2 linked regions of the Homo sapiens genome follow. The protein of the gene in region 1 purifies or fractionates together with the protein of each later gene. This does not show direct contact. Each region holds a gene or a part of one and is shown in the gene's direction. Other genes may lie near its edges.

Evidence for each region. Proteins that work in one complex are often made in the same cells at the same time.
Region 2: the proteins of RYK (region 1) and CELSR1 purify together in Homo sapiens (affinity purification with mass spectrometry; 2 studies listed by BioGRID and IntAct, with this or other methods). This does not show direct contact.

Annotation. Positions count from the first base shown.
Region 1 is NC_000003.12:134,159,477-134,164,637, reverse strand, and holds part of RYK (tyrosine-protein kinase RYK isoform 2 precursor), read left to right. Parts: intron 1-5,161. UniProt on the Homo sapiens protein: May be a coreceptor along with FZD8 of Wnt proteins, such as WNT1, WNT3, WNT3A and WNT5A. Involved in neuron differentiation, axon guidance, corpus callosum establishment and neurite outgrowth.
Region 2 is NC_000022.11:46,390,291-46,394,620, reverse strand, and holds part of CELSR1 (cadherin EGF LAG seven-pass G-type receptor 1 isoform 1 precursor), read left to right. Parts: intron 1-358; coding exon 359-479; intron 480-2,804; coding exon 2,805-2,988; intron 2,989-3,333; coding exon 3,334-3,435; intron 3,436-3,545; coding exon of another isoform or gene 3,546-3,778; exon of another isoform or gene 3,779-4,093; intron 4,094-4,134; coding exon 4,135-4,229; intron 4,230-4,330. UniProt on the Homo sapiens protein: Receptor that may have an important role in cell/cell signaling during nervous system formation.

The DNA of each region.
Region 1 (5,161 bases):
ACTGCAGTATTCATATAACGAGCTATACTACTAAATAAAAAGGAATGAACTGTTGGTACATGCTACATCACAGATGAATCTCAGAATCATTCTGAGTAAAAGAAGCTAGGAAAACAGTATACAGCTTGAATAATTCTATTTATATAATTCTAGAAAACGCCAACTATCTAGTGACAGAAAGCAAATTAGTGGGTACTTGGGGATGGTAGTGCTGGTGGTAGGGAGGGGTGGAAGGAAAGGATCAAAACAGAATCATTTGGAAGTGATAGATATGCTCCTTATCTTGGTTGTGGCAGTGGTTTCAGGAGTGTTTATGTATATCAGAACTTATCCAGTGGAATACTTTATGTGCAATTTCTTATGTGTCAGCTGTACTACAATAAAAATAAATGAAAACTGTCTTTACTGTCTGATCACTGCAGCTAACAAATCTAGGACTACTTGCTAAATTTACCCAATCTTAAGACCCACCAAGGACTTTTGTTTAAAGGGATGTGATCCAGGCCTGTCATGGTGGCTCATGCCTATAATTCCAGCACTTTGGGAGGCCACGGCTGGTGGATCACTTGAAACCAGGAGTTCGAGACCAGCCTGGCCAACATGGTAAAACCCCATTTCTGCTAAAAATGCAAATAAATAATTAATTAAATAAAATAATGTGATCCAGGCTTCAGAATTATTAAGATAGGACAGAGGAACTGGACTTTTTAGCAAGCACCCCAGATAATTCTTCTCCTTCTTATAAAACACTTAACCCAGGTTCATTTAATTGCACTTTGGTAATCTGCAGCCATGTCTTTATGTGAGAAAGGGATATTAGGTTTCTAATATGAACAGAAAGGCCTAGCCATGGACCACCTGATGATGCTTCCACTGTGGTCAGATAAGATAATTTACAATTGAATGGAATTATTTTCCTTTCAGTTTATAGTTTACTGAAGTGAGCCTTGCATTGTAAGTTCCTGAAGTAATCACTGGAAATGTCTTAATTCAGTAGCTCCATCTTTAGTTAATGCTGCACTAAAAGAAAAAAGGAATTTTACTTACATACTTTTTGACAAGTCACATTCATATATGTTTTAGTGGAAAAACTGTTTTACATCTTATATATAGAAGCTGTAAAATAACATGTTCTGGGGAGAGGAATAAGATGAATAGAATAACATTATAATTATCTAAATGTTCTTTAAATGGAGATAGCCACAATCTTTCGTAAAACTCTGGAAAGAACAGCATGACCTTCTTATTGCCCCCTTTCCACCGACGTCAAACAGAAGGAAATTATAGAATAAGTCTGTCTAAATTTTAAATGGTTCAGTTATCGGAAGACCTTAGAGAGCAAGTTTTCCACAAATCATCTCTGCGCCATTTTGTCTTGATTATTTTTTTAAGGGTTGGTTTGCCAACATGTAATTAATCACTTTTGTTAGTTTTTAAGGAAATGAAACTGCATTGTTCCCTTTGGCTTGACTGTTCTTTTTTATGGCGTCTTTTAGTGTTGTAGTTGTAATATGAAAACCTTAGGTAAATGTTGGGCAGTAATGTGAACAAAACAGTGGGAAGGGAGTAATTTTTAAAAGCTTATCTACATTGCTGCTGTAATACTTACATTCAACTCCAGATCTCAAATACCACCAACTTTAATATCAAAGTCCCTTAAAGTCAGAAGGTGTTATAATGTCAGTGGATGGGGTTATTCCCTGTGTACAAAGAGTCAGGATGCACTTGTCACCAATTCCCATGGTTTCTTCTTCCAAAATCTAGTTTGAATGGATCATTTCATCTCTGGAGGAAGGGATGGGAGCACCCTTCCGACCAGTTTCATTTCTTTGGGCTCTGTTCCATCTGTGCAGGGAACTACCTTCTCTATGGAAATTGGACACGATTTTAAAAATAAAGCATTGCATTTACTAATGACTGTCAGTATTAAGATTTCATGTAGATCTTGTTGCTTCTCAGAAAAAAGTTTCATATACAGTAAGGTTTTAAAGATAGGCAAATAACTAGTTGTGAGCAGGCACCATCCTTTAACTTTTATTAATTTGAAATCATTTTTCCATTTTTAAGCAGAATAGAATGTCCCAGTAGGTGTAAGGGAAATTTCAGTAGCCTCCAAGACTCTGTGGAGATTTTGAAACTATACACGCTTCTCCATCTGTCGCCTGCCCCCTCCTCCCAGAGCATAGACTTCAAGGCTGGACTTTGCTCCATGTTAATGATCACTGTTAATGAAAAAGATAATAGGTTCCAAAAGGCTGACCACCTGTTTTTGGTATTTAGGGTAATGCTGCTGTCAAAGTGAATGAGATATATTCCTTCCTCTGTGTTCTGAAAGTTTACGTAGGGTTGGGTGTGTAATGGGTTGAATTGTGTCCTGCGTCTCCACCAAAAAAAAAAAAAAAATGGTTGAAGCCCTAACCCCCAGTACCTCAGAATGTGACCTTATTTGGAAATAGGGTCATTGCAGATGTAACGTTAAGATGAGGTCATACTCAATGAGTATGAGCTCTAATCCACCCTAAGAAAAGAGACACACACATGAGGAGAAAATGTCACGTGAAGATAGAGGCAGGGACTGCAGGGCTGCAGCTGCAAACCAAGACACACCAGGGGCTTCCGGCAACCACAGGAAGCTGGGAATAGGCAAGGAAAGATTCCCCCTACAGGTTTCCGGGGAAGCACAGCCACGCTGACACATTGATTTGGACTTCTAGCTATCAGAGCAGTGGGACAATAAATTTCTGTTGTTTAAACTACTCGTTTGTGGTATGTTATTATGGTAGCCCTAGAAAACTAATACAGATTTATATTTTCTTTCAAGTTTGATAGAATTCACCAAACAGTGTTGAGTTTTCTTTGTGGAAAGGTTTTGAATTGTGAATTCAGTATCTTTAATAGATGTAGGGCTATATAGATGTTCTGTTTACTCCTGTGTCTGTTTTGGTAATTTGTATTTTAAGAAATTTGTTTATTTCATTTAAGTTGCTGAATTTATTGGCATAAAATTGGATTGTTCATAATATTTTTTGATGTCTTAAAGGATGGTGTTCCCTCCTTTATTTCTGATATTTTAAATTTTTTGTTGTTGTTCAGTCTAACACAGTGGTTCTTAACTGGGACAGTTTTGCTCTGGCTAAGGACATTTGTCTGTGCCAAGGGACATTTGGCTATGTCCGGAGGCATTTTGGGTTGTCACAGCTTGGAGGATGTGCTACTATCATCTAGTGGGTAGAGCCCAGGGAGAATGCTAAACATCCTACAATGCACAGGACAGCTTCTCACAGCAAAGAATCCTCCAGCCCACAATATCAGTAGTGCTGAGGTTAAAAAACCTACTCTAGGCTTTATAGTGTAAACCTTCTATTTTCCAAAAATATTATATCATTTCATGTTTAATATAGTGTTTCCATTCATCCCCTTCCAGTCTTCAAACTGGTTGTGGGCATACCTTTTACTTCTCTGTATATTATAAACCCCACGATATATTGTTAGCTGTTTTTGCTTTAAATAGTCTGTCAAGGAAATTTTAACATAAGAGAATATGTTCAGTTGTTACTAATATATTTTCAGCACTCTGTATTCTTTGTGTTGACTCAGATTTCCATGTGGTATATTTTCTTTCCACATGAAGAACTGCTTTCATACATCTTACAGGTCTGCTGGAAACATAGTCTCTCTGCTTTTATTTGTCTGAAAAACTCTGTATTTATCTTCATTGTTGAAGTATATTTTGGCTCTATATAGAACTTTCCATGACAGTTTTTAATTTTTTTTTCTTTCTTTGAGACAGAGTCTCGCTTTGTTGCCCAGGCTGGAGTGCAGTGGCGCGATCTCGGCTCACCGCAACCTCCGCCTCCCGGGTTTAAGCGATTCTCCTGCTTCAGCCTCCCGAGTAGCTGGGATTACAGGCATGCGCCACCATGCCCAGATAATTTTGTATTTTTAGTAGAGATGGGGTTTCTCTATGTTGGTCATGGCTGATCTTGAACTCCTGACCTCAGATAATCCTCCCAAAGTGCTGGGATTACAGGTGTGAGCCACCGTGCCTGGCCCTAAAATATTTTAAAATATGTCATTTCATTGTTTTCTTGTTTGCATAGATTCTGGGGGGAAATGTAGCTATTGTTCACTATTATAAGGCTTTTAAAAAAATCTGTGTATTTTACAAAGTATTTTGGGATTTTGTTGTTATTGAAAAATAATAACCTAAAATTTAATGCAACATGTTTAGATTTTACAAACAGACTTGTATTTGACTTGCGTTTGGTATTTCTCTTTTTTCCTTTTCTTTTTTTCACTTTTTTCTCTTTTACTCATTAAAATATGTATTTTGGGGCAAGCTATTTCTCTGAGCCTCAGTTTTCTCACCTGTAAAATTGAGCTACCAATGATTCTCACAGGTTTATTGAGGAAATTAAATGTATTGAAGGATGCAAAATGATTTGAATTTGTAGGTACTCATAAACCTGATACTACAGTACACAGGTATCCCCCTCCTCATCCAAGTTCAGTTGTTCTGACCTCAGGGTTCACACTTGGCGGCAGATCAGTGGATGTACCGGATCTGAGTCCTTCCCAGCCATGTGGCAGCAGCTCTGTGTAGAGACGTTGCCTGCCCCCCGCCCCCTGCACGCTCTCCAGGAGCCAAGTACAGCCAGGAATTGGCCAAAATGGAGAGCCCCGAACGGACCATGAATGGACACTGTTGCCACTGTTTACTATTCCTGTTCCTTTCTGTAGTTTACCTGCTGATTTTAAATAAACCTGATTGCTTACTCAAGCAAGGTTGGAAGTTTTTTTAATCCTTTAATTTAAAACTTTAAATACAGTAAAAATCCATGACTTCTTATATTTCCCCTCATTTGCGTATTTCACTTAGGATGCTCTTCCCTTTAATTAAACTAAAATTCTGTTCATTTTCCACTTCTCAATTATGCAGACTAGCTATAATATTTAAAGTTACAAATTCTCATATTAGAAGAATCTTGGACATAATTCATAATACGTAGCTTGTAATCAACAGTAAACTATTACTTCCAATGGATCTAATTACTTAGAATTTATAATACTAATATTGGATGCACTCTTTTTTATCTTAGCAAGGGAAACTAACTGTGTATGATAGACATTTTTTTGTAAATAACATTTCGCTTTTCCAAAG
Region 2 (4,330 bases), on another chromosome or scaffold:
AAGTTGTGCCAGGCAGCTGAGCTCAGTCTGCCTGGGGCTGCATCGTGAAAGGCCAGCCTTGCAGTGGGGGTTCATTGTCATTAAGCCCCAATGAGTCAGGCATCATGTGGACGTGGGGCACACGGTGGACAGAGATGTCATCCCAGTCGCTTTGGGCATGGTGGATCTGTGGGTGGGGGGTGAGGTTGGGAGCCGGTAGAGGGGAGACTGAGGCCATGTAACGTGGAAGGGGAAGCTCCCAGAGCTGGACCCAGCCAGGCCTCCTGGGCAACCATCTCCATGCTGCCTGCAGGCCTCTTCTCATTCCAGAAAGCACAGTTACATAAACCTTCCAGCTGCCCTCTTATTTTCCCCACAGACTCGACCTTCCGTGCCCCAGAGGCTGGTGGGGGAACCCCGTCTGTGGACCCTGCCACTGTGCCGTCAGCAAAGGCTTTGATCCCGACTGTAATAAGACCAACGGCCAGTGCCAATGCAAGGTGAGGCCCCGCCCCCATGATCCCTGCATGCTGTGTTTGCTCACACACATGCACAGCTGCCCCTAAATACACACACGCCTTCACATACCCTGTCGGTACACACTCACACCCCTGCACACACACCTGTGCCCACTCACATCACATTTGTGTACAGATGTGGTTTTTGGTTTCCTTGCTGCTCCCCCGTGCTCTGTGAATACTCCATGGCTGCTTTCCACGTGTAAACTACGGGTTCAGCCCTGCCAGCCCCCGCCCGTGGAACAGGAATCCCTGCCTCCTCCCGGCCTACTGCCCATGGCTGTGGGAAGCCCACCCGTTTCTGAGGGCTGGCTCATCTATGGCACCACCCCGGCCCTCCTGGCCTCCTGGTTGGCCATTTTCCTGGTCTTTTTTTTTTTTTTTTTGAGACAGAGTCTCGCTGTGTCGCCCAGGCTGGAGTGCAGTGGTGCGATCTCGGCTCACTGCAGCCTCCGCCTCCCGGGTTCCAGCAATTCTTCTGCCTCAGCCTCCTGAGTAGCTGGGATTATAGGCGCCCACCACCATGCCCAGCTAATTTTTGTATTTTTAGTAGAGACAGGATTTCACCATGTTGGCCAGGCTGGTCTTGAACTCCTGACCTCAGGTGATCCGCCCGCCTCAGCCTCCCAGAGTGCTGGGATTACAGGCGTGAGCCACCGTGCCTGGCCATTTTCCTGGTCTTTACCAAGCTGGTGTCCCATGATGACAGCAGTTTTAAAATAGAAAGTGTCACTAAGTGCGTTATGCCCCACGCCTGTCCAGGGCGGTCAGTCCTAACCTGCATGCAGCACGGAGCTCACATCTCGTGTCTCCAGAAATGCACACGCGTTCTCAGTGCAGACTCTAGGGACCCCTCCCCAGCCCTCTCAGGATACATCACCTCCTTCAGGATCTTCGTGTACACCACGGCCATGGCGCTCACAGTGACTTGAAACCCAAATGTTAGGTCTGAGGGTAACAGGAGCCTGGGCGAGGGACGTGAGCTTCCTGCAGATGCGGCTGGCCCTAGGAGGGAAGCTGGTACCAGGGCACCCTTGGATGCCATCTCGTGATGTCAGTAGTGTCCCCCCCCAGTGCCTGCGGTGGTTCCAACAGCAAATGGGACTTGTGTCCTGAAAGGCTCAAATTAAACAGCTCTCCTGGGTCAGGGTCGGTCCACACGTCACCAGATGGCGGTGGTGGCATAGTGGGTGGCAGAGCAGAGAGAACATGGGGAGTGCATTGGCGAAAACTTGCCTACGATTTTTTTCTCATCCAAAGTTATAGGCAGGGCGTGGTGGCTCATGCCTGTAATCACAGCTACTCTGGAGGCCGAGGCAGGAGGGATTACTTGAGCCCAGGAGTTCAAGACCAGCCTGGGCAACATAGTGAGACTCCCATTTCTACAAAAAATAAAAACATTAGCTGAGCGTGCTGATGCTTGCCTGTGATCCCAGCTACTCAGGAGGCTGAGGTGGGAGGATCACTTGAGCCCTGGAGGTTGAGGCTGCAGTGAGCTGTGACTGCACCACTGCACTCCAGACTGGGCAACACAGTGAGACCCCATCTCAAAAAAATAAAAAAACAAAGTTATACAAAATGTAATAAAAACCCATAAAGATCGCAGTCACCCCATGCGCCTCCCAGCTGTGATTGTTAGTGTTTTAGCATCTCTTCTGGGCCTGTCGTTCACTGTCATTTTACACACAGTCGGAGTCCCCACCTGACACACAGGTCTGAACGTTGCTCACGAGTCTGCCCAAGTCACAGCCTGGTCACAGCCTGCCCCGTTTTCCGGGGCGGGGTTGAGGGGGTGCTACTTGGGCCTGGGGAGTCCCGGTGACCAGCCCAGGCAATGTAGCTGGTAAACGGCAAGGGTCAGGCATGAACCCAGGACTTTCTGAACCCGAAGTACAAGCTCTTGATTGTCACCCTGACCCACCCAATGGTGGACGTTCAGGTGGCTTCTAATTTTTCAAAACAACTTTAAAAAAACGCCCAAGGGCTATCCCCATACGTAAGCCTCCATTTGGATCTCTGATTCTTTTTAGGACAAATACGAAGGTGCCCACTGTTGAGACTTGTTAAGACATGAGGGAGGGCGTGCTTCCCGGAAGAACTGCTCTCCTGGGTCCGGCCTTGTGGGGCCTTGGGAGGCAGCCCCCGTTGGGTGTGGGATGTGGGCAGAGGGTAGCCATGAGGGGTGGGATGGCTGGCGGCCAACACACACACCCGGGTGGGAGTCTGGACGTCGCTCGGGAAACACGCTGCAAGGTAGGGCCTCTCCCGGGCATCTGAAGTCACAGGCCCTGCCTCTGGCTTTTGCAGGAGAATTACTACAAGCTCCTAGCCCAGGACACCTGTCTGCCCTGCGACTGCTTCCCCCATGGCTCCCACAGCCGCACTTGCGACATGGCCACCGGGCAGTGTGCCTGCAAGCCCGGCGTCATCGGCCGCCAGTGCAACCGCTGCGACAACCCGTTTGCCGAGGTCACCACGCTCGGCTGTGAAGGTCCGCGTTGCCCCTCGACACCCTGCAGGTTACAGCGCGGGGACAGGCTGCTGCACTGGCGTGCACGTGTGTGCATGCACGCTGGGTGTTTGGGGGACCCTGGGCTCCCTCGTGTTCTGAGTTCTCTTGACCTTCTAGAAACCTGGTTCTGCGTGAGGGGGTGTGGGTCAGAGCCTGGTCACCCCTCTCCAGCTCTGACATGGATGGGGGCAGGGGAGATGCTAGGGTTCGGTTCTTGGTGGGAGCAGGGCCTCCTGCAGGGAGGCGCATGCAGACAGTGGTGCCTGTTTGTGGTCGTGGGTGTGGCGTGCCCCGCTGAGCAGACTTCTCTCTTCTCTACCCCAGTGATCTACAATGGCTGTCCCAAAGCATTTGAGGCCGGCATCTGGTGGCCACAGACCAAGTTCGGGCAGCCGGCTGCGGTGCCATGCCCTAAGGGATCCGTTGGTGAGTCGCCGTGGCCTGTGTGTAGGGAACTGAGGCAGGCGTCCTTGTGGGAGGAGCCAGTCGAGATGTGGGGACTCATGGAATGTTTCGTGTTGAAAAAATATCCGCAGGCAAAGTGCTGGGGAGAAATCCGATCGCCTTTTCCCTACCAGGAAATACACAAAGCAGGCAGAGGGCGCAACAGAAACATGAACAGTGCAGCGCGTGTGGGGACGCCCGCCAGTCAGGCCCGGCCAGTCCCTGCTCTGCCGCTCAGGCTGGGGCACCGGGACAAGTGGCTTCACTGTTCATAGCATCGGGTTACCTCTGTGAAATGGGGACATTGACTGTGTCCACTCTGTGAGGGGCGTCTGGAAAATCCAGTGAGGCAAGGAAAGGCCCAGCCGAAATGGATTCCTGGTGCATGGGATCGTGGCTGCCGGCAGATGGTGTTGCTGATTTCTTTCCTCACGGACTTGCTCGGAAGTGCTGGCTCCTGTTGGCTGGGCTCCCGAAACGCCTGGTTGTCAGTGTCAGAGCAGCTTCGGCCGTGGCCCTGACATGAAAGAGGGGCGCTGGTGTCGACCTCCTGGCCCCCATGGGGTTCTAACCACCACGCAGTGTTCTGGGTTTAAGTATATTCAGATTGTGGATTGAAATACACAAGCATTGATCAACAGTTTGAGTTTCAGGCTTTGCACACCTGCTCTCCTTCCCCAGGAAATGCGGTCCGACACTGCAGCGGGGAGAAGGGCTGGCTGCCCCCAGAGCTCTTTAACTGTACCACCATCTCCTTCGTGGACCTCAGGGCCATGGTAGGGGCGCCTCGGGGATGTGTGTTCAGCAGGGGCACGTGTGTGTTCGTGTATGCGTGAGAGAGTTTGTGTGGGCCGAGGCTCCTGGGCTGGGGAGTGTT